7 linked regions of the Homo sapiens genome follow. The protein of the gene in region 2 purifies or fractionates together with the protein of the main gene of each other region. This does not show direct contact. Each region holds a gene or a part of one and is shown on either strand. Other genes may lie near its edges.

Region 1 (3,500 bases), on a different chromosome or scaffold from region 2:
CACTGTCATCCCCATAAATAAAGTTATTGGAATACAGCCATACTCATTCATTCATGTATTGTCTATGGCTGCTTTTGCTCTACAATAGCTGGGTTGAGTACTTGGAACAGAGACCAAATGTCTGGCAAAAGTCTAACATATTTACTATCTTGTACAGAAAAAAAATGTCAACCTACATCTATACTTATTACAATTTCAGTAAAAATACAGAGTTTAAGTAATTTGGGAAAATGGCTTTAAGAATGAAAAGGTGCAAGGTTATACCTGCTGAACAAATGAACTGTGGGCGTGAGGTGCCATTAGTCTAGGCCTGCATGTTCAGGGAAGGCCCAGGGGAGAGCCTGATGTGGCCTGGCTATTTGTCATATTTGCAAAGGGGAAGTGATGTAATTGGTCTGCAATGAACTTGATTTTCAATTGACTCAAAGATCTAAGGAGGAATAAAAATTATTTAAAAAGGAAATTAGGGAAGAATGGGGAGAATATTGGAATCATTTAATAGAAGTACAAACACATAGACTTTTAACTTTTGCCCATTAAATTTTTTTTAACATTTTATTTTCTTAAATTTTTTTTAAAAAAATAGTGATGGGGTTTCACTGTGTTGCCCAGGCTGGTCTCGAACTCCTGGGCTCAAGTGATCCTCCCACCTTGGCCTCCCAAAGTGTTGGGGTTACAGGCATGAGCCAGCCTCACCCAACCCATTAAATGTCTTTAATGTAACTTCGGGTGTATGAGAATTTGTAAGTTGACTGTGCAGATCTCTTAAAAGGTTGATATGGTGTATTTTTAGAATGTTTTAGACTGCACGTGTGTGTGTGTTTGTTTGTGTGTGTGTGTGTGTGCGTGCTATAGAAAACACAGCATGGAAACCTTGTTAAAATCAGAGGCTTTGATTTTTTATTCTAAAGCTTTGAGTTATATGTTTAATCAGATACTATGTGAAAAATTTTCATTAGGTACATATTGAAGTGTTCCATTCAAGTCTACAAGTATATCCTCCTAAGGATTTAGTTTAACATCCTTTCCCTGCTCCAACAAGGGAATGCTTTATTAGAGTTTCCTAGAAATAATGGGACTAATTAGGACCTTTCATATTACCTAGTCCAGCAGTCCAACCCATGTGGCTCCTTCAACAGCATCGCAGCCTAATGCTTTTAATTTAATTTTAAATTTTTAATGTTTTGCTGTGATTGCCTCTTCCACAGTTTGATTTTTTTGTACTGTATAATTCCATGTTAAGGTATTTAAAGCTTGAAAATCTTAGCATGATATAGCTACTTTGTTTTTTCATGTATTTTTAGCTCTGAAGTTGGAGATTCCAACCAGCTAATAAATGAGATCAGAGTCATGTGTTTTTTTGTTGTTGTTGCTCTATCACAATGTAAATGTGCCCCTAGGAAGCACCTGCTTCTATATGGTGCCTTACCCAAGGGAGTGTCTTCCTGGGGAAAAAAGTGTAGTTTTTCCAGCAGAAACTTGTGAGAGTGCAGAACCACAGAGGAGCAACAGTGTCTGAATAAAAAATTCCAGGGCAGGGAAGCAAAGTCTACCTGCAGAAAGGAAAGATTTTAGTAACTATCAAATCACAATTTTTCTTTTAAGATGAGTGACAAAATCAAGACCTTGCACTCCCCCATTTTGGGCTTACCCAAGCATCGAATAAAGCAGTAGAACTTACTTTGGTACTTGCGGGTGGCAGAGACACTTTCTACCTGTGTATGTGTTTTGGGAGCCGGCAGTCCTTCTAAAATTATATTGCTGCCATGTAATGTCCCACCTACAAAATGGATGTGGCCTAAAGCCATTTAAACATTTAAATGAAAGAGCAGTTGCAGTGTCTTTTTCAGGTTACCAGTTATACTGCCCAGAGGAAATCTTGGAGGGTATAAACCATTTTGTCACACTCTCCTAAATCCAGAGTAGCGATGGGAGATAATGGTTTATCCACCCAAAACAACCCTCTCAGTGGAGATTTCATAACCAAGGTTGCTAAATTGCCTGGTGACTATTAAATCTGGGCTTAGAAAGGCTTTGCTACTTGTGAGTTCAAGATCTCACCCTCACCTTTGCATGTACATGACCTAATTTTATGAGTTCAAACAAACATGATTAGATCCCCAGGGTTTAGATTGATGATGGCCAGACTCACAAGGGAATAATAATAATGGCATGGAGTATTTTATTAATTCACAAATGAAAAATGTATCTTGACAGTTTGGCAGATGCAGATACTCTCCTAGCCAGTCGAGGACCCTCTTTCTTATATCATAGCTGGAAATATGACAATAAATGATTGATCTCCAGCTTTCCCATTACAATATTCCCACCTAGCAGATCACCAGCTATCTGTTTCAGCCGTATTTATTTATTAGATGTGTTGGGAACAAGTAATCTTTGTTTGCAGCATCTTGTTTGATTTTTATGACCATGATTCTGCGAGATAGGACACAAGTGATTTCCATTTCACAGATTGGGAAATTGAGGCCAGAGCCTTTACTGCTAGTAGTGGACCTGGGTTTTGAATTCAGCTTTTAAGATTGCAGATCCAGAGCTCTTTGGAACATATTATACAGCTTTTCTCTCCAGGAAATTTGTGAATCCCTCTCTGTTGTTCACTATCTGAAGAGAAGACATATCAGAGGAAATAAAGGGTCTTAAAATGTTGCCAGAGCAGGGTGTGTGATGGGGGAAAGCATCGTCTTAAGTATCCTGTCATGTGATAGTAGTTTAAAAAATCAAAAAATACATCTTCCACATGTGTGAACTTGGCACATATTATTCTGAAGTATGAAATGTATTTTAGGAAGTTGAAACATCAGAAGTTTGGAAGCTTGCAGCATGATTTAGATATAAATTAATAGTCAAGCAAAAATCATCACTGGATAAGTGCAGTGGGATTGAAAACATTTTGCTTCCTCAATGCCTAGCTTCAGCTCATCAGTGAAAAATAAAGAAGGAGTAGACAAATTCAGTACTAGCCTTTGCATTCTGTCTCCACCTGAGTCATGCATGGTTGAGAAGAGGCAGGTGTGTGGAGGTGTGTGCGGCTGCCAGGGGCTCTGCGCCTGTTTTATGGTAGATAGAGGAGTTTTTAAGAGGCCTTTGTTGGTGATCTCTGGCTGCATAACAAATTACTCCAAAACTGAAAACAACGAACATCTCACATAGTCTTTGTAGTTGGGAAATTTGGGAGCTGGGTGGTGTGGCTCAGGTCACTTTTGAGAATGCTGTCAAGATGTCGGCTGGGACTGCAGTTGTTTAAAGACTTGACTGAGGCTCAAGAATCCTCTCCTAAGGCGGCTTACTCATTTGCCTGGGCTGTGAGTGCTGGCTGTTGGTGGGAGGCTGCAGTCCTCACCATGTGGACCACTGCTGGGTTGCTTGAGTATCCTCACAGCATGGCAGCTGGCTGCCCCAGAGTGAGTGATCCAAGAGCAAGCAAGATAGAAACTGCAGAGTCTTCTGTGACTTAGCCTCAAAAGTCACACTTATTTCCA
Region 2 (3,500 bases):
AGGACAATGTTATTCGCCAAAGACTGAGCAAAAGCAAAAAAGCACAAAAACATAACATGTGTGAGGAAACCTATGTGGCAAGGGTAGGATAACAATTTCTAGTACATGTGCTACTACTCTTCTACCCTCACTGTGTAACAGACATCACTAATCAATTAAAGCATGTTTAAAACCCATTTGACATCTCAAAATTCTTCTCAACATATAACACAAACTAGTAGAAGGAGGTAGGTCCATGAGATGAAATATACATGCTATCCTAACCCTGGAAAAAGAAAGTGGTGGGACTTGAGGCAAAGGGTAAATTAAGAACAGATTATGAATAACCATGAATGCAAGGCCAACAAGTTTAGATTTTATCCTGTGGACAACAGAGGATGAACAAAGGACTTTAGGAAGAATATTGATGTGATTAATTCTGAAAGATATGTGAAGAATGGATTTGGACAGACAGAATGAAGGCAGGAAGAAAGAACAGTTAAGATGCTATCATAAAAGTCCAGGCAAGAAGCAATGAGACCTGAATTTCAGCAATGGGAAAATCTACTGCATGTTCTAAAAGAAAAATGAAGTTTTGGATTTTATTATAACCATTTTATTACGGTTTTAAAATGAAAATTTGGGAAAAAGTAATATTCTAGTCAGAATTCCCAAATAACACTCAAAATGGAAAAGAAAAAACAAAGTAAGGTAAAGACTAGAATTAAAGAAGTGAATCACAATGATACCCAAAATTACTCGACTATAAATTCAGAAATAGATATCTCAGGTTTAGCATCAAGAAAGAGAACATCCTCATGACCAGACTAATACTCAGCAAGTCTTTTCTTCCTCTCAGGGCACTAATACGCTAGCCAAACAACAAACGCTATTCACCTTACATGCCCCTACAATACAGGGTCAAACTCATACTCCCGGTGAGATGCAGACAGCACTAAAGTCAAATTTAAAACAGAAGTCTGAAATCATGTAGAAGCTCAACTTTATCCAAACATTTAAAACTCCACACTTCTTTTAAGAAACGTAATTTATATGAAATAAACCTTCTGGAAATAATACCATTCTACTATTTATTAATTCATATCCTAGCCTTTAAACTCCAAAATTCTTGGTATGGAAAACAACTTATCTGTAGCACTTTGGAAAATATGTACAAAAAACAACTCTCCTAACACTTCTGCAGAACGTTTAATAAATGAAACTATTCTAATTAAAAATTAAAACTTCACTGTAGCTCAAAAGCCCAAAGGGAGTAAAACGTTTTTTCTATTTTGAAAAAGGAATTCTTTAGCTATTGCAAACAAAGGCTAGCGCAGTGATGTGAAATCCAAGTACAACATGTTAATAAAGCTGGCATTACTGTTTTAAGACCTAAGGATATTCACATTAAGGATAAAATTATCCTGTAGTGAATGCCAACAATGCATTTCATACTACACAGACACATATTCAAGGGTTCTACTTTGTTCCAATTCTTTTGTGTCCCAGTAACAAACTCTCAAATTGGGATCCTTATCCTCTTAAACTAAAATGAAATATATGAGCTTGGACATAAAATTTACTTGTGCTACATTATTCATTCTGAGAAAGCAAATCAGATGAACAATTTAACATAATCTAATTCTGAACCATAAAGATATGGATTAGTCAGTGATGAGCAGGTCTACTTCTCATGATGTCATTCCAAAGTCATTATTAAATTTTACACATGTTATTCTTTCTTCAAATCAATCACAAAACAAGTCATCCCGAGACTGAGGTCAAATTCCATTCTAACTAAAAGATCTCCAAATCTGAAGTAATGGTCTACTTACTAAGTAATACTCAAAGACCAAATTCCAGAAAAACCCTCCTCCTGTACCTCCCCCCAACTTAAAAAAAAAAAAAATCAGTCTTCTCCTTTTAGCTCACTGTAATGGAATGTGACCTGTACTTAAGGGCTTTTCCATTCCTTTTTTTCTGCTTACAGAATATGAAGCAGACCTATTCTCTCTCACAAGGGCAATATGCTTTTAAAAGAAAAAAAAGTGAAATGTACGAAGTTAATAATGTATTAATTAGAACAAACAAAAGTAAAATAATTTACTAGATTTCTCACATGTGAGTTGTCCTCCTATTAGAACAATGCATGACACTTAGAATGAGTGTATTTTTTACTTTTTTTTTTTTTGAGGCAGAGTTTCACTCTTGTTGCCCAGGCTGGAGTGTAATGGCGCAATCTCGGCTCACTGCAACCTCCACCTCCTGGGTTCGAGCAGTTCTCCTGCCTCAGTCTCGTAACTGGGATTACAGGTGTGCGCCACCATGCCTCGCTAATTTTTGTATTTTTAGTAGAGATGGGGTTTCACCATGTTGGCCAGGCTGGTCTCAAACCCCTAACCTCAGGGGATCCACCCACCTTGGCCTCCTGCAGTGCTGAGATTACAGGCATGAGCCACTATGCCTGGCCAGAATGAGTGTATTTAAATGACAATTGAATTTTTATTTTTATTTTACAACACTGATCAGACATCTGAAAGATTTATGATTTGTATCACTCCTAATAAATTAAGCAGGGAAGAGGAGGTTAAAACTGCACCTACTTAAATAAATCTTCTTCACATACAATATAATATTGCTATAAACATTTTCCATGACAAATCATTTTTATTACTGAACTTACACTTAAGTACCTAATCATAGACAGAACAGGAAAGTAAGCACTTAAGAAATGTACTTTGAGGCCAGGGGCGGTGGCTCACGCCTGTAATCCCAGCACTGTGGGAGGCCAAGGCGGGCGGATCAAGAGGAGAGATTGAGACCATCCTGGCCAACACGGTAAAACCCCATTTCTACTAAAAATACAAAAATTAGCCGGGCATGGTAGCATGCGCCTGTAGTCCCAGCTACTCAGGAGGCTGAGGCAGAATTGTTTGAACCCAAGAGGCGGAGGTTGCAGTGAGCCAGAATCACACCACTGCACTCTAGCCTGGCAACAGAGCGAGACTCTGTCTCAAAAAAAAAAAAAAAATGTACTTTAAAGTCTAAACTTAAACACTTTAATTAATCTACCTGAAGTTCAGCTCCTCATTTTAAAAAAAGAAAGCATTTAATTAGATAATCTTTAAAGTTATTTCTAAGATACTTTAACCTGCCGGGTGTGGTGACTCATATCTGTAATCCAGCACTTTGGGAGGCTGAGGTGGGCGGATCAGGAGGTCAGGAGTTCCAGACCATCCTGGCAAATATGGTAAAACCCCGTCTCTACTAAAAACACAAAAATTAGCAGGGCGTGGTGGCAAGCGCCCGTAATCCCAGTCACTCAGGAGGCTGAAGCAGGGGAATCGCTTGAACCCAGGAGACGGAGATTGCAGTGAGCCAAGATCGGGCCATTGCACTCCAGCCTGGGCGATATAGCGAAAACTCCGTCTCAAAAAGAAAAAGATACTTACTTTAAACCAAAGTTTCTTTTGTTTTGAGACAGAGTCTAGCTCTGCTGCCCAGGCTGGAGTGCAGTGGCA
Region 3 (3,500 bases), about 45 Mb from region 2:
AGGAAGGAAGGAGCAGTCTGCTAGTGGAACAGCAGCTCTGACACCATGTGTTAGTGTTCTCTTTCAGTAGGCCTGGAAATGAGTATCTTTAATTGGAACCGATTGGGAAATAGGGCTTCAGGTGCTCAATATGCTGTACATTCAGTGGTAAGAGCCAATTGTAGGATTATTAGTAGGTCTTGAAGGTAAGGGGAAATGACAATCTGATTGCTCCTGAGGAGAAACTGTGAAGGAAAAAAGTGATGTGTCTAATAACAAGAAAGGAATCAGAAAATTTTGAGTAGATTTGGCATTTTATAGAACTGTGAATTCATTGGTTAGGTCAGAAAAAGTGTTATCTGTGGTAGAAGACTTCCAAAAGTCCACAAGTTAGATGTACATTTGAATTTTTTGTAACTCTTAAACATCTTTCTTCTACTTCCCCTCTTTTCCTGCTTGGTTTCTCCTCTGTTTTGTATTTATTGGTTGTTCCAGAATTGCTTTTCATATGAACCAAATATGAAATGAAAACCTAACCCTTTTTTATCTCACTGAATTTTATTGCTACTTTTCAAGTCTCACATAATGTAGTTCTTTCTAAAGGGAAAGTTACTGTGTAAAGGGCATGCTTTATTTGAACTGCTATTTAAGAGTAAATGTGAACCTTTGGGTGACAGTACCTTAGCTATAAATACTGCCTCTCTGAGCCTAGGAAATGTTATTCTGGATAACATGTAACATAACCCATTAGAAGGTGGCATATAAAACAATTATAATCTCCAAATGTATATTTACTTCCAGACTTACAAGGCGTTAATACTATCACAATTATTGTGTAAGGGTGATATAAGTTACTTCAATTTATAGATATTTTATTTTTATTGAACTCAAAATAAGAATTTAGGCTCTTAAAATCGCCTGTTTCACTTTTTTCCTCTCTTCTCATTTTTTGCTGTCAATTTTAGAAATTTTGCTAAGATATTTAGGCAAAGGAACTCCAAATCATATTGCCCTTCTTTCAGATTCTCAGTGGGCTTTTAGTTATGACCACAATAATTAATATTATTTCTTAGGAAGACATTGGAAAATTATTTTTGGCTGGACTCCATGAGTAGAAAAGGCTATGAAAAATGTTCCATCTGCTTTTCCATCTGCCAGTAACATAGCAGCTTGTGATAGCTGATTATTGAGACTTGGCTTAAATGAAATTGCCATGTGTTATTTATAAGATCTCGAGAAGAGAAAAATGAAGAAAAATGTATAGCTGAAGTTTTTCTCATTCTAAAAGGAATTGCCCTCTGTCACCATAATTAATATTTCTCTTTGCTTTTTGAGCTTGTTCATTCAGTCTGCTCTTGTTTCGGTAAATGTAGTTCTTCAGATTTTTATGTTTAGATTTTTGTTTTTTTTTTTTGGTCTCAGGGTATTAATGTTCAACATCACCAATCATCAGGAAAATGCAAATCAAAACCACAGTAAGGTATCATGTCACCCCAGTTAGGATGTCTGTTATTCAAAAGACAAAAAATAAAGGCTGGCAAGGATGTGGAGAAGAGAGAACTCTTATATGGTTTATGGGAATGCAAACTAGTGTAGCCACTGTGGAGAACAGTATGGAGTTTTCTCAAAAAACTGCAAATAGAACTACCGTATGATCCAGCAACCCCACCACTGGGAACTTATCCAAAGGAAAGAAAATCATTATATCAAAGAGACATCTGTACCCTCATGTTTATTGCAGCACTATTCACAATAGTCGAGATATGGAATCAACCTAGATATTCAACAACAGATGAATGGATAAAGAAAATGTGGTATTTATATGCAATGGAATACTATTCAGCCATAAAAAAGAATGAAATGCTATCATTTAAGGCAATTTGGATAGAACTGGAGGACATTATGTTAAGTGAAATAAGCCAGGAACAGAAAGTTAACCACCATATGTGCTTACTCATATGTGGAAGCTAAAAAAAAAATTGATCTCATAGAAGTAAAAAGTAGAACAGAGGATACTAGAAGCTGGGAAGGGTAGGGGGAAAGGATATATGGGTAATACTTGTTAAAGGACACAAAATTACGCTAGATAGGAGGAATAAGTTCTAGTGTTCTGTAGCATTGTAGGATGACTGTAGTTAACAATAATATATAGTTTCAAATAGCTAGAAGGAGGATAGTGAACATTCCTAACACAAAGAAATTATAAATGTTTGAGATGATTAATATGCTAATTACCCTGATCTGATCACAATACATTATATGTATCAAAACATCTCTGTACCTCATCAATATATATAGTTATGCCAATTAAAAAATAAAATTTACAAAAATCTTTCAGATCTTACCAAATATATTTGGTATATTTTATTTGAGGTGTCTTCATCAATTTTTTGCTGCCATAACAGAATACCATGGACTGGTTAATTTACAAAGAACAGAAGTTTATTTGACTTGGTTCTGGAGGCTGATAAGTCCAGGAGCATGGTGCTGGCATCTTGGTGAGGGTCATCCTATGGCAGAAGGGCAGAATGCAAGAGAAAAAAAATGGGACTGAACCTACCCTTTTATCAGGAGCTGACTCCTGTGACAACTAACCCATTCCTACAATAACAGTATTAATCCATTTAGGGAGGCAGAGCCCTCATGACATCATCACCTCTTAAAGGTCCTACTTCTCAACATTGTTGTCCTGGAGATTGAGTTCCCAACTCATGAGCTTTGTGGGGATGTAGTCAAAACTACACAGCATGAGAGAAGATCTAAAAGCAAAAACCTGAGTTTACAACTGTCAGTTGTAAGAGAGTTACAAACTTTACTGCCTTGGTCATTGCTTAAACACAAAAAGCATAGTTTTAACATTTTAATATTAAAAGGAAATTGGTCCTGGAAAACTTATTTATTTATTTGCGTGATTGCTGCTACTTCTAATAAAAATGGTGAAGAGTAACAAAAAAAAGTGTCCACAAAATTTCTGGCACTTAAAGTAATCCCTTCCTCCTTCCCTTTCTCCTTTTCTTCTTCCCTTCCTATTAGGGAGGTGATATGATATGATTCAGTTAGGAGGAGACTAGTAAAGTACTTAATGTACAGTTTTTCTGTTTTAAGTAATAATCAGGGAGATAAACTTCATGCTTTTTATAAATAATTTGTAAGAATCACAATGTTTCTTTTTTTAGTGCTCTACAGCATCGAGCTGATGTGTCCTGCCTCTGGAAGCTAGCTGGGGATGCTTGTACCTGTCTGTATGCTGTCGCACCATCTAAAGTGAATGTTCATGTTTTAGGAGTCCTTCTAGGTCAGAAAGAAGGAAAACAAGTATTAAAGAAAAATGAGCTCCTCCACCTTGGAGGAAGGTAATTTGCAAAGATTGCCAGTTAATAACATTTGAATTGAATTAAGGCATTGTAACAAAAAACATTCACTTTTATATTCCCGTAGGTGTTATGGTCGTGCATTAAAACTGATGTCTACATCTAATACATGGTGTGACCTTGGAATTAATTATTATCGCCAAGCACAAC
Region 4 (2,961 bases), on a different chromosome or scaffold from region 2:
GTAGAGTAAAATGTTTTTATTGCCAGATCTTTGATGTATAAACACTCACTGTATATGTTCTGATTGGTCTCATATGTCTTTGCTGAAACTCTTGGAATAATGGCTCAAAATGGGATGAATATCCAGAGCAGTACAGTCACAACCTTTAACTTCCTCCCTGTTGAAAATGCTGGGGTTTCAACAATCCGTAATTCCGATTTGAAAAGGGCTACAGTTTCCTTCCCTCTCTGGCTTTGGTCATGAGGAGGCCTGGGCTCGGTAGACAGAGGTGAAGAGAACTGGTAAAAGATGCCCTCCTCTAGCTTGCCTGGATGAACGTTTTTAAATGCATAATTGCTAGAACTTAATATTTAAGTGACATGGTATAGTCAAGTTGTTTTTCTTCATTCTGCCATGGTATTCGCCTGAGGTTTATTTATTATTTTTTCATGATCCTAGGTTCACGCAAAGAATCTGCTCCACAAGTTTTGCTTCCAGAAGAAGAGAAAATTATAGTGGAAGAAACTAAAAGTAATGGTCAGACAGTGATAGAAGAAAAGTAAGATGTCTTCCGGTATTCTAAAGCAGATGTTTGACCTCTGCGGTGGGGTAGTAGAGTCCAGACAACTCCCTGAGGGCGGGGGTATGGCTTCAGAAGCTTCACTTTTTTTTTTTTTGAGACGGAGTGTCACTCTTGTCACCCAGGCTGGAGTGCAATGGTGCGATCTCAGCTCACTGCAACCTCCACCTTCCGGGTTCAAGCGGTTCTCCTGCCTCAGCCTCCCGAGTAGCTGGGATTACAGGCCTGTGCCACCACGCCTGGCTAATTTTTGTATTTTTAGTAGAAACGAGTTTTCACCCTGTTGGCCAGGCTGGTCTCAAACTCCTGACCTCAGGTGATCTGCCCGCCTCGGCCTCCCAAAATGCTGGGATTACAGGTGTGAGCCACTGTGCCTGGCCAGAGCTTCACTTTTAAAATGTCTTCATAGGCTGAAGTTGCCCTTGACTAGGCTTGAACCTGCCATGCACAGAGGTTGGCAGTTTTTAGTTGTGAATGTAGACAGTACATGGGTAAGGCAGAGCAGCTCCGTGTCCTCCTCTCAGCATCGTAGTGTCTCCTGGTAAGTTTTCGTGTGTCCTCTCCATGCCTCACCTTGTTCATGTGTGTGTGTTCTGTTTCCTGTTTCAGGAGTCTTGTGGATACCGTATATGCATTAAAGGATGAAGTTCAAGAATTAAGACAGGTACGTCATAATCCATCTTTAAATCTTTTTTTTCTTTTCAAATGGGAGAAAAGAAGAAAATTACATTAAAAATAAGCTGGCTGGGTACGGTGGCTCACACCTATAATCCCAGCACTTTAGAAGGCCGAGGTGGACAGATCACCTGAGGTCAGGAGTTCAAGACCAACCTCACCAACATGGCAAAAACCCATCTCTACTGAAAATACGAAAATTAGCTGGGCATAGCGGCAGGTGCCTGTAACCCAGCTACTTGGGAGGCTGAGGCAGGAGAATTGCTTGAACCTAGGAGGCGGAGGTTGCTGTGAGCCGAGATTGTGCCACTGCACTCCAGTCTGAGCCACAGAGCAAGACTCCGTCTCAAATAAAAATAAAAAGCTGATTGTCCATAAGCAAAAAACTAAAAGGAGGTCATGTCTTTGAGAAGTCCAGCAGATAAAATAATTGGTTGTCTCTAAAGTGACTTGTTTAAACTCTTTTTTTTTTCTTAACAATACTGATTTTGATGTCATAAAACATCGCAAATTCTGTTGGAAGAATAATTTAAAATATCGAAAGTTCTGTCTGGTGACAAATCCTGCGAGGCGCCCCTGAGATTAGCCTCTGCCACTGCATGGTCCTTGGCTCCCGAAGCCAGGTTAGCGAGCCAGAAGTGGCGACTAACCAAGGGTGTTCTGGGTATTGCACGGAATGTGAGTATGAGCAGCTTTGGTCCTCTGCCCAGCTAGGCGAGGGAAGGTTGGGGTGTTCATTGCACGGAATGTGAGTACGAGCGGCTTTGGTCCTCTGCCCAGCTAGGTGAGGGAAGGTTGGGGTGTTCTTTTGGCCGAGGAACAGCCTGAGAAGAGTTGTGGTCTGGGATAGAGAGCTGAGAGCAGGTTGCTGTGTGGAACTGGACATGTGCTGTCATTCTAAGCAGTGTCCGCAGGTCTTCCAGGTACACCTTTGCCTGGCTGGCAGGCTTCCATGTTCACGCTTTGCCCCTACCGGCAGCAGGCATCTGTTTGTGCATGCCTCCTACGTCCGAGACATGCCTGGGTTCAGCTGCACAGAGCAGGTGCTCGCCCACTTGCTCCTGCACCTGTCAGTGGCTGTTACTTCCAGTCCTTTCTGTAACTCTGGAAGGTGGTTATAAATGGACAAAAAGGCTGGATAGGAGCTGTCTCGTCCGCAGTTTCCAGCTATTTTCTTACGGTATGTTCTATAGAGATTCATTCATGGACTTAATAAGAGCCATTAGGACCATTTCCATCCCGGGAACAGCAGCACAGTCAGGAGCACCGCTGCCACCCTGTCCAGGTGTTTGACCTTCGTGGATCCCCACGACCTCAGAGCCCATAGGCAGCTCACGTGGGATTTCATGAATCGAGGCCTTAGCTCCTCAAGGATACACATTTGGGGAAAGGAAGCCCTACGCGATGCCAAAGATAGTGAACACCCTGTGGTCTGCTTAATTTACAGGACAACAAAAAGATGAAGAAATCTCTAGAGGAAGAACAGAGAGCCCGCAAAGACCTGGAGAAGCTGGTGAGGAAAGTCCTGAAGAACATGAATGATCCTGCCTGGGATGAGACCAATCTATAAGGGATGTCCTCAGTTCTTTCTGTTGAAGACCAGTTCTGAGGTGAAGCTGGGCACCCCTGACCCAAGTCGGGGTGCACTCAGGACCACAGGGCAGGGCTGGGTGGGGCGCCACCTTGCTCTCTGTATATAGAAAAGCTGGAGCTTATTCTGCGAATGG
Region 5 (3,500 bases), on a different chromosome or scaffold from region 2:
CAAAGGAGTAGTAGCCTGCTTGGATCAGGTCGGGGTTCCTGAGTCTTTCTACTCCGGAAAGCAGCTTCTGTACGTCCCCAATGTCCCAGGTGTGGCCGTCCCTATCCTCTTCCTCCTCCTTCTCCAGGGTGTAGAACAGGGCAGTGAGAAACTGCTGGAAGCTGAGGTGGATGAAGGAGTAGCAGCCTTTGGAGACTCTGTCCTGGCGGAGGATGTCTCCGTCCAGGAACAGACGGAGGTCGGACTCCTGCACCCCGAGCCTTTCCAGATCCTCTCGGTGAAGCACGGACGTCTGCGCCCACAGGCCCTGCGCGGCCAGGAGGCTCAGCGTCCGCAGCGCGCCCCGCAGCTGTGCGCCCTGCGGGAACCGGCTGCAGAGGAAACGCAGGAACAGCCCCGTGCGGGTGAGGCAGGTGGGGACCGGGTCCTCCCCCTTCTCCATCTGCAGCTTCAGAGTCGTGCACACGATCCAGCACACCGCGGGGGCCGAGCCCAGCTGGAACAGGGCCGCGTTGCTCCTCATTAGCTCAAAGGCACGCATGGCTTGGTCCTCGTCTCCAAAGTGTCTCAGGAAATAGGCCCTCCTGTCCTCCTCCAGGAAGCCCTCCACCCTTATGTAGATCGGCTCCTCCGCCAGGATCCGGAGGTCCCTCAGGGCCCTGGGCCGCGTGGTGACCAGCAGGGCGGCCTTGGGTAACATCACCCTGTTCAGCAAACTCCCCAGGAGGACGGGCACCGGCTTCTTCTTCTCCCAGTCCCCGCAGATGTCCTCGATCAGCGCCCCAGGTGCGGCTCCCAGCTCATCAAAGCCGTCAATCACGAACAAGATTTTCCGTGCTTGGGCTAGGATGTGTGGAATGTCATCCTGCAATTCAGGCCAGTCCCTGAAGACCAGCTCTGCAAAACTGCACGGGCCCAGGCGGCTGAGCTCCCTGCAGCTGAGGTAGAACGCATATTTGAATTTGTGGATGAGGTTGTCCTCTGCCCAGTCTAGCATTAGTTTCTGGGCCAGCGTGGTTTTCCCAAGGCCTGCAGGACCATACAGCACCACCGTGTATGAGAAGGGCCCGGGAAGCACCCTGGGGTTGCTGAATGGGATCAGCATCTTGTATCTCTCAGCCATAACCTGGACCTCTTTGCTATCTCCAGGCCAGCTCTTCCACATCTCCCGGAACTTCGTCTTCAATATATACCTGCACCTATTGTCTTTGTCTTTATCATTGGTGAGGAGGGAAGGGAGAGAGGATGCAATCAGTTACCCATAGGGAAAACCAAAATAACAAAATGCCTTGTGTTGGCCGGGCACAGTGGCTCATGCCTGTAATCCCAGCCCTTTGGGAGGTCGAGGCAGGCAGATCACCTGACATTGGGAGTTCAACACCAGCCTGACCAACATGAAGAAACCTTGTCTCTACTAAAAATAAAAAATTAGCCAGTCATGGTGGCGCATGCCTGTAATCCCAGCTACTCGGGAGGCTGAGGCAGGAGAATTGCTTGAACCTGGGAGGCGGAGGTTGCAGTGAGTCGAGATCACGCCACGGCACTCCAGCCTGGGCAACAAGAGCAAAACTCCGTCTCGATACATACATACATAAATAAATGCTTTGTGTTACATAGGAAAGTTAAGAGGACTTCAAGTTTATAAAGAGAAATCTGATCCCAAGCTCCCTGCAGGAAGATATGGTACAGACCTGGCTTTTTTCCTTTAAAGACTTCTTTACCCAGGCAGATGACATTTCCTTTCGTTTCTGTAAACGCTACAAAATACAAACTCATGTGAGATTGACACAAAATCAGGTGTATTTCCTGTGGAGTCCCAATTAGAGAAAAGGAGGCAGGCTGATGGGGCGGGGGGGAGGGGGGGCACGGGATCAGATAAAGCAAATAAGCTACAAATGTGTTTTCCGGCCAGGTGTGGTGGCTCATGCCTATAATCCCAGAACTTTGGGAGGCTGAGGTGGGGTGGATCACTTGAGCTCAGGAGTTCGAGACCAGCCTGGCCAACACAGAAACCCCATCTCTACTAAAAATGCAAAAATTAGCCAGGCGTGGTGGCGCATGCCTGTAATCTCAGCTACTTGGGAGGCCAAGAGGCTCGAGAATTGCTTGAACCTGGGAGATGGAGGTTGTAGTAAGAGATCGCACTACTGCACTCCACCCTGGGCAACAGAGCAAGACTCCATCTCAATAAAATAAATAAATAAGCTTTCCTCCATGGTTCAGGGCATACAAACAAGAGGAAACAGGTCAGCTATAGGTCTGTTTGAGACAGTCTCACTCTGTTGCCCAGGCTGGAGTGCAGTGGCGCAATCTCAGCTCACTGCAACCTCCGCCTCCCGGGTTCAAGCGATTCTCCTGCCTCAGCTTCCCAAGTAACTGGAATTACAGGCATGTGCCACTGCGTCTAGGCTAATTTTTGTATTTTTAGTAGAGATGGGGTTTCGCCATGTTGGCCAGGCCAGTCTAAAACTGCTGACCTCAGATGATCCACCCACCTCAGCCTCCCAAAGTGCTGGGATTGCAGGCATGAACCACTGCACTGGGCCAGGTCTGCTTTTATGGTCCAGGAGATACGGCCCAAGATGTTTGGCCTTCCTGGCCAGATCACACACAGAGCTCACAAACTCCCTGTTTGCCATGAAACGCCTCAGTTTATCAAACACTTCTGCTGAAAGAAGACCGCAAGTTAAACCCCCTGTTGACATTATCAATCAGCCCAAGCCCTATTCTATAAAATCTGCAGGAAGCTTTGGTCTCCTGGCAGTGAGCTACTCATGACAACCTGCCCGCTGGGGTCTCTCTGCCAATGTCTTTTCCTACTTTCTCCAATAAATCTGCCTTCCTTTACCTACGATTGTCTTCATAAATTTCTTTACCCGCGGCTGGGCGCGGTGGCTCACGCCTGTAATCCCAGCACTTTGGGAGGCCAAGGCGGGTGGATCATAAGGTCAGGAGATCGAGACCATCCTGGCTAACACGGTGAAACCCTGTCTCTACTACAAATACAAAAAATTAGCCGGGCGTGTGGCGGGCGCCTGTAGTCCCAGCTACTGGGGAGGCTGAGGCAGAATGGCGTGAACCCGGGAGATGGAGCTTGCAGTGAGCCGAGATTGCGCCACTGCACTCCAGCTTGGGTGACAGAGCAAGACTGTCTCAAAAAAAAAAACAAAACAAAACATTTCTTTACCTGCCATGCCACCAGGCACTATTCACCCACATTTCCTGCTGAAGCATGATGATAGAGCAGGCACCACAGTACCCCAAGTCGCACCGAAATTCTTTGTCAAGATTGTGTGCTAGGCTGGGCACAGTGGCTCACGCCTGTCATCCCAGCACTTTGGGAGGCTGAGGCGGACGGATCACGAGGTTAGGAGATCCAGACCATCCTGACTAACACGGTGAAACCCTGTCTCTACTAAAATACAAAAAATTAGCTGGGCGTGGTGGCACACACCTGTACTCCCAGCTATTTGGGAGGCTGAGGCAGGAGAATCGCTTGA
Region 6 (3,500 bases), on a different chromosome or scaffold from region 2:
TGAATTTATATTCTGCTGTGATTGTACAGTGGGTAGTACTCTGTTTTGTGAATTTATATTCTTTCTTTCTTTATATATTTTTTTGAGGCGGAGACTCCCTCTGTCGCCCAGGCTGGAATGCAGTGGGGCAATCTCGGCTCACTGCAGCCTCTACCTCCCGGGTTCATGTGATTCTCCTGCCTCAGCCTCCTGAGTAGCTGGGACTACAGGCACTACCACCACACCTGGCTAATTTCTTTTTTTCTTTTTTGAGATGGAGTTTTGCTCTTCTTGTCCAGGCTGGAGTGCAGTGGCGTGATCTCGGCTCAGTGAAACCTTCGCCACCCAAGTTCAAGTGATTCTCCTGCCTCAGCCTCCCAAGTAGCTGGGGTTACAGGCACCTGCCACCATGCCCAGCTAATTTTTAAAAAAATTTTTAGTAGAGATGGGGTTTCACCATCTTGGCCAGGCTGGTCTGGAACTCCTGACCTCAGGTGATCCTCCTGCCTCGGCCTGCCAAAGTGCTGGGATTACAGGCATGAGCCACCGCGTCCGACCTGAATTTATATTCTTTAAATGCTTTCCAATATTTAAGATATTTTCATATTTCTGCCTAGCAAGCTCATGCAGAAGTCTACTTGGTTATTAGTGTTTTTAGAGTTTTAGAAAATTTTCAGTTTTGAGCTAATTATTAACTTTAAAAACCAATTTTAAAACAAGACTGTGATTAGATATGTGATGTATAATTAAATCATTTGGAGCATTCACATCATTATGTATTTAGAAATAAACATACCTTTTTTTTTTTGAGATAGGGTCTCCCTCTGTTGCCCAGGCTGGAGCACAGTGGTGTGATTATGGCTCACTGCAGCCTTGACTTCCCAGGCTCAAGTCAGCCTCCTGAGTAGCTGGGACTGTAGGCACATGCCACCGTGCCCAGCTAATTTTTTTTTTTTTTTTTTTTTAAATTTGAGACGGAGTTTCACTCTTATTGCCCAGGCTGGAGTGCAATGGTGCGATCTTACCTCACTGCAACCTCTGCCTCCCAGGTTCAAGCGATTCTCCTGCCGCAGCCTCCTGAGTAGTAGGATTACAGGCATGTGCCACCACGCCTGGCTAATTTTGTATTTTTAGTAGGGACAGGGTTTCTTCATGTTGGTCAGGCTGGTCTTGAACTCCCAACCTCAGGTGATCCGCCTGTCTCAGCCTCCCAAAGTGCTGGGATTATAGGTGTGAGCCACTGCGCCTGGCCTAATTAAAAAAAATTTTTTTTTTTTGTGGAGATGGAGTCTCACTGTATTGCCTAGACTGTTCTGGAACTCCTGGGCTCCAGCAGCCCTCCCAACTCGACCTCCCAAAATGCTGGGATTACAGGCATGAACCATTGCACCCAGCCTTGATTTATTTAGATGAGGTAACACAAAAGAGTTGCATTTAAAATTTTTACTTGTTAATTAAGTAAGCTGTATATGTGATAAATAGGATGTGAACTGTTTTACTTCTCTGTAAAGAGGTAGTTTACTTGAATAGTGACAGGTGGATTAATAGGGCTTTGAAAGGGTATTTGATTTTTCCATAGTTCTTCGAATCTTAACATTTTAACACATTTCATTTTTCAACAGCTTGCTATGGCATTGTTCAAGTACCCACTGGACCGTGGTTTTGCAGGAAATGTGAATCTCAGGAGAGAGCAGCCAGAGTGGTAAGGACTATTTATCAAAAACATTAAACTTTAGTGAGTAGGTTAGGAAATTAGGAACTGCACTCCTGTTGTGGTTTGTGGGGTTGTCAGTCATTTCTTCAAATATCATAATGTAAGAGATAATTTAGGCCAAATATTGACTTGGAGTATTAAACAGATTTTGTAAAACTGAAAAACAAATGGAATCAAGTGAGTATATTTTGGATACTTTGAAAACAAAAATACATAGTCATATTTGGGCTTTGTTAACTAGTTACAGAATCAAGAAAGCTTGAAGAAGTTTGAAGGTTACACTGGCTAATCATAGTTAAAATATAATGGAAATAGAAACATAAGGAAGTTACATTGATAATTCTCTTAGGTTTTGTGTAATGGGAAAAAAACCCAATAATTTTAGTGACTATCATATTCCTTTTACTACATCTTTGGGTGTATAGTTTAACTTCGAACACTCACTGATTTCAGGCATTCAGTCCCTTTGGCAAACCAACATAAAAATCTTTTTTTTTTTTTTTTTTTTAACTTGGGTGGTTACCTTATTTCAGAACTTTTCTAAACCTCTTATAAGAATGAAGGAGGTGCCGGGTGCAGTGGTTCACACCTGTAATCCCAGCACTTTGGGAGGCCGAGGCGGGAGTATCTCGAGGTCAAAAGATGGAGACCACCCTGGCCAACATGGTGAAACCCCGTCTCTACTACAAATACAAAAATTAGCTGGGTGTGGCAAGCACCTGTAGTCCCAGCTACTTAGGAGGCTGAAGCAGGAGAATTACTTGAACCCGGGAGGTAGAGGTTGCAGTGAGCTGAGATGGTGCCATTGCACTCCAGCTTGGGCAATAAGAGTGAAACTCTGTCTCAAAAAAAAGAAAAACAAATTACAAACATTAGCTGGGCGTGGTGGCACGCCCTATAATCCCAGCTATTTGGGAGGCTGAGGCAGGAGAATGGCGTGAACCTGGGAGGCGGAGGTTGCAGTGAGCTGAGATCATGCCATTGCACTCCAACCTGGGTGACAGAGCAAGACTCTCAGGAAAGGAAAAAAAAAAACAAAAAGGAGGTAGGCCGGGTGCAGTGACTCACACCTGTAATCCCACCACTTTGGGAAGCCGAGGCAGGAGGATTGCTTGAGTCCAGGAGTTTGAAACCAGCCTGGTCAACTTAGTCTCTACAAAAGAAAAATTTTAAAAATTAGTTGGGGCTGGGCACAGTGGCTCATGCCTATAATTCCAGCACTTTGGTAGGCTGAGGTGGGCGGATCACTTGGGGTCAGGAGTTTGAGACCAGCCTGGCCGACATGGTGAAACCTATCTCTGCTAAAAATACAAAAAATTAACTGGATGTGGCAGCGCGTGCCTATAGTCTAGCTACTCTGGGGGCTAAGACGGGAGAATCGCTTGAATGAGGGAGCCAGAGGTTGCAGTGAGCCAAGATTGTGCCACTGCACTCCAGCCTGCACTCCAAACAGAGTGAGACTGTTTCAAAAAAAAAAAAAAATTAGTTGGGCGTGGTGGCTTGCACCTGTACTCCCAGCTACTCTGGAAGCTGAGACAGGAGGATTGCTTGAACCTGGGAGGTTGAGGCTGCAGTGAACCATGACTCCAGCCTGGGTGACAGAGTGAGAGACTGTCTCACAAAAAACACAGTGAGGGAGGTATGTTTATCCTTTGTATCCACAAGCATTTTTCCCATTTGGATTTCTGAAAATATCAGAAATAGATTTTATTTTCATTAGTTATGCAAACCTACCATTTAAAATATGATAGTTCCTTTTTAAAATCTTATTATATTTATTGATTTATTATTTATTCCAAGACATCTT
Region 7 (3,500 bases), on a different chromosome or scaffold from region 2:
TCTTGCCTCACGCTGCTCATGCTTTCAGGGAAGGCCTAGGAGCAAGGTAGCGAGGGGGGATTTTTGTTTTCCTTGTGTCATCAAGGTAGGTTTTGTTGATTTTATCATGTAAGCCTTGAATTTAAATTTCCGAGGCTTGCTTGTATTTCTATGTAGTAGTTCACAATAGAGTCCCAAAGTTAGTTACAACTTTCCTGTTCTCTGACATCCATAAACAGACTTTAAGAAAAGACTAGTCATTCATGAGTGTGTAAGTGTAAAGAGAACCATTCATCATGGTTTGTGGGCTTTTCTGCCGATGTGGCCTAGTGCTCCGTGATGCACACTGTGCCTTGTGTGTGAGGACTGACTGTATCTGGTGACAGAGTGAAGGATGGATGCGAGGGGAGAGAGACCAGGGACTAGAAGACCACTTAGGAGGTTCTTACAAAACTCAGGGTGAAACCTGTCAGAGTCCTGAACTGAGGCAGGGTAATGAGGCTGGGGAGGAGGAAACGAATGTAAAGGATGGCATACTGCAGAGTTTGAACCTATGGACGAGGATAATATGATTTTGAGATTAAGAAAGAGCCAGGGATTAAAGATGAAGCTTCTTCCCAGGGTGTCTGGTTGCATATGGTGGTGCCCCTTCATGGAGATCAGTAATCACAGGAGGAGGAGAAGTTTGGGGTGTTGAGAGAGATACTGAGTTCACTTTAGGACCTGATGAGTTTAAGGTGCTTGTGACATATCTAGGTGGAAATACCAAGCTGCTGCCAGGTAATCTCAGGTAAGTGAGAGGATCACTTAAGCCCGGGAGTTTGAGGCTGCAGTGAGCCATGATTACACTGCACTCCAGCCTGGCAATAGAGTGAGACCCCATCTCTTAAATAAAATAATAATAATAATAATAATAATAAGAAGAAGAAGAAGAAGAAGAAATACCAGGCTGACAGTTGAGATTGTGGACCCGATTCTCAGGAGACAAGGTCAGTACCAGAGATATTTGGGAGTCCCCTTAATAGACACTTGGGTTGAAACAGAAGTGACACTAAGTGAAAAGCAAGTTAAATTAGAAGAGGATCAGGGCAGGGAAGAAGAATCCAAAAGGTTTCCCAGAGACAGGCAGGAGAATCGACAGGCTGCTTTGTCATAGATGCTGAGGGAGGGAAGGTCGAGGAAAGAAAGAGAGTCAGTGATGAAAGCTGCCCCGAGGATGAGCAGGAGGAGCCCTTGGAAGGGCCCCCCTCTGTTTGATAATCAACAAATCTTTCCCCATCATAGGAAAATAAAAGAATGAAGCAATGCCTGGAAGAAGAACTGAAATCAAGAAGGGACCTAGAAAAGCTGGTGCGGAGGCTTTTGAAGCAAACAGATGAGTGTATTCGAGGCGAGTCCAGTAGCAAGACCTCAATTCTTCCATAACCATCACTGTGCCACTGGGTGGAGTGTGCCTTCAGGGCATCTTGAAATGTCCCGCTGAATGATTTGACTCAGTTTGCTCACTTCTTTGGCTTTTGTTTTGTGTTTGAGTCTCTCTCTCTCTCTCCCTCTCTCTTCTCTTTCTCTCCCCGCTGTGTGCATATGTGTGTGCGTGCACGTGCGCGCTTGGGCATTTGCTGTTGTTTGGTTATTGGTTGGTTGTTCATTTTTTTTTTCAACAGGTGAAAAAGCAGGAAGTGGTGGTAGAGATGGCCTCAGAGTCTTTTCCATTCAGTAAGAAAGAGAAAGGGAATGCAGGCCAGTTACTTAAAAGGTCTTCAGATTGCCTTCAGTTCACAGTGCCTCTGCAACAGCCATTGCCCTCAGGTCACATTCTTTGGGCTGGCTGCCCTTGCAAAGCAGCTGGCCAAGGCTTATTAAATGTGAACCCAACTTTTCCCCAGGGCTTTCCTGTACCTGCAAGCCTCTTAGTACTTAATTTACCGAAGGCAAATCTTCCAGACTATGGCTTGAGTAGGATGAAAGACAAACACATCTGCCCAATGATCCAGCTGCCCTTCCTTAGACCATCACATGCCTCCCCTCAATCACAGGTTTTAAAATTACTGCCCTATGTTGTCTATAAGACCAAGAAAACTGTAGTACCCTTATTCCTTTTGTGTCATGTAAATTGTAACTCAGGGGGGCAGAAGCTCTGGTCACCCACACCAACACCAAATCCATCAGCAAATTCTACTGGACAATCCTCCCTTTTAGTAGCAGAGTTGACCGCCTTTTCCCATTGCATGATAGGTTTCTTTCCCTCATTCTGCCTAGTGTGTAAGTTTTCTATTTCCCCAGTACTTTTAGCCAACCTTACCAAGTGGTGTGTAAACTAGTATGTATGTGCTTTGCTTACTTTTTAAAAAAATGTAGTTAGACTGTGAGGAGTTACTTTATGTACGTTGCATATTCAAACTGTGATGTTTTATCCTTCAAAACAATCTGCATTAAGAAGATATTGTGCCCTACTAGACAGCTTTCATTCACTTTATTACTCTCTCATATATGCTGTGAGAAGTTGTAATATTAATTGGCCTCTTTGGGTGGGACTCTAAGCAGTATTTGCAGAAATATGCTTCTGGTCCAACTTGTACATCCAGAACAAAAGGGCCCCTCTAGTAGCTGTGTGCTGGATTATTCAGGACTGATTAACTCAAGTTGCTCATTGAATCACATCATCCACTTTATCCCAGAAACTAGAACTGTGAGAAACCAGGTTTAGAAGACAGTCACAGAACAGCACACATCCAAATTCAGCGCCATTGAAAGTTGGCCTAAGGCTCAGTGCCACTCACCCCTCCCTCCCCAAAAGACAAGAGAAATTTGGCCAGATGGGGAAGGTCACTGGAAATTGAGGCCAAAGGGCTGATCAGAATTGCCTTTATAATATATTTGATGGATGCCTATAAATGTGGGTTTTGCAAATATTGTTTAAAAACCAAACTTGAAGCCAGGCATGGTGGCCCACACCTGTGGTCCCAGCTACTCAGGAGGCTGAGGTGGGAGGATCATTTGAGCCCAGGAGGTCAAGGCTGCAGTGAGCTGTGATGACACCACTGCACTCCAACCTAGGTAACAGAGAGACACCTCTGTCTCTGAAAAAACAAAACTTGAAGTTTGAAACCCCCAGCTTGCTGAGGAGCCCTTTTTATTTTTGGTACTGAGAGTCTCAAGGTCCCATAGCTACATGGTACAGGGCTGTTGTCTGCTTGCTGCACAGCAGAAATTACACCATCCACAGGAAATGGACTATTTTTGCAGTCCAACATCAGCCAACCACACACAGCCGTGTTTGGAAGCTGAAGAGTAAAGAAATTTCTAGGAATGGCTGTTGTTCTGTTTTTTAGCACAGCCATTTAGATATAACATCCTTCACTTAAAAATTAAAAACATCAGTACTACCACCACCACCAACAACATCAACACAGATCTTCACATCTGCCCATTCTGTGGTTAGTCAATGGCTTGCAATAAATGTGCAAACTGCATCTATAGGAAACATTTTTGTGATTACGGAATACTTTAGTTGATTGCTG

What was found.
Region 1: the proteins of PFDN1 (region 2) and TACC1 purify together in Homo sapiens (co-immunoprecipitation; 2 studies listed by BioGRID and IntAct, with this or other methods). This does not show direct contact.
Region 3: the proteins of PFDN1 (region 2) and SKIC3 purify together in Homo sapiens (affinity purification with mass spectrometry, with the first as the bait; one large-scale study listed by BioGRID). This does not show direct contact.
Region 4: the proteins of PFDN1 (region 2) and ARHGEF7 purify together in Homo sapiens (co-immunoprecipitation; 2 studies listed by BioGRID and IntAct, with this or other methods). This does not show direct contact.
Region 5: the proteins of PFDN1 (region 2) and NLRP2 purify together in Homo sapiens (co-immunoprecipitation; 2 studies listed by BioGRID and IntAct, with this or other methods). This does not show direct contact.
Region 6: the proteins of PFDN1 (region 2) and MLLT10 purify together in Homo sapiens (co-immunoprecipitation; 2 studies listed by BioGRID and IntAct, with this or other methods). This does not show direct contact.
Region 7: the proteins of PFDN1 (region 2) and ARHGEF6 purify together in Homo sapiens (affinity purification with mass spectrometry; one large-scale study listed by BioGRID and IntAct). This does not show direct contact.

Annotation. Positions count from the first base shown.
Region 1 is NC_000008.11:38,793,736-38,797,235, forward strand, and holds part of TACC1 (transforming acidic coiled-coil-containing protein 1), read left to right. Parts: intron 1-3,500. UniProt on the Homo sapiens protein: Involved in transcription regulation induced by nuclear receptors, including in T3 thyroid hormone and all-trans retinoic acid pathways. Might promote the nuclear localization of the receptors.
Region 2 is NC_000005.10:140,296,602-140,300,101, forward strand, and holds part of PFDN1 (prefoldin subunit 1), read right to left. Parts: intron 1-3,500. UniProt on the Homo sapiens protein: Binds specifically to cytosolic chaperonin (c-CPN) and transfers target proteins to it. Binds to nascent polypeptide chain and promotes folding in an environment in which there are many competing pathways for nonnative proteins.
Region 3 is NC_000005.10:95,516,978-95,520,477, reverse strand, and holds part of SKIC3 (superkiller complex protein 3), read left to right. Parts: intron 1-3,155; coding exon 3,156-3,332; intron 3,333-3,417; coding exon 3,418-3,500. UniProt on the Homo sapiens protein: Component of the SKI complex, a multiprotein complex that assists the RNA-degrading exosome during the mRNA decay and quality-control pathways.
Region 4 is NC_000013.11:111,300,310-111,303,270, forward strand, and holds part of ARHGEF7 (rho guanine nucleotide exchange factor 7), read left to right. Parts: intron 1-438; coding exon 439-538; intron 539-1,168; coding exon 1,169-1,223; intron 1,224-2,681; coding exon 2,682-2,804; 3' UTR 2,805-2,961. UniProt on the Homo sapiens protein: Acts as a RAC1 guanine nucleotide exchange factor (GEF) and can induce membrane ruffling. Functions in cell migration, attachment and cell spreading. Promotes targeting of RAC1 to focal adhesions. May function as a positive regulator of apoptosis.
Region 5 is NC_000019.10:54,979,874-54,983,373, reverse strand, and holds part of NLRP2 (NACHT, LRR and PYD domains-containing protein 2), read right to left. Parts: intron 1,758-3,500; coding exon 1,692-1,757; intron 1,213-1,691; coding exon 1-1,212. UniProt on the Homo sapiens protein: Suppresses TNF- and CD40-induced NFKB1 activity at the level of the IKK complex, by inhibiting NFKBIA degradation induced by TNF. When associated with PYCARD, activates CASP1, leading to the secretion of mature pro-inflammatory cytokine IL1B.
Region 6 is NC_000010.11:21,537,232-21,540,731, forward strand, and holds part of MLLT10 (protein AF-10), read left to right. Parts: intron 1-1,601; coding exon 1,602-1,681; intron 1,682-3,500. UniProt on the Homo sapiens protein: Probably involved in transcriptional regulation. In vitro or as fusion protein with KMT2A/MLL1 has transactivation activity. Binds to cruciform DNA.
Region 7 is NC_000023.11:136,665,933-136,669,432, reverse strand, and holds part of ARHGEF6 (rho guanine nucleotide exchange factor 6), read left to right. Parts: intron 1-1,263; coding exon 1,264-1,404; 3' UTR 1,405-3,500. UniProt on the Homo sapiens protein: Acts as a RAC1 guanine nucleotide exchange factor (GEF).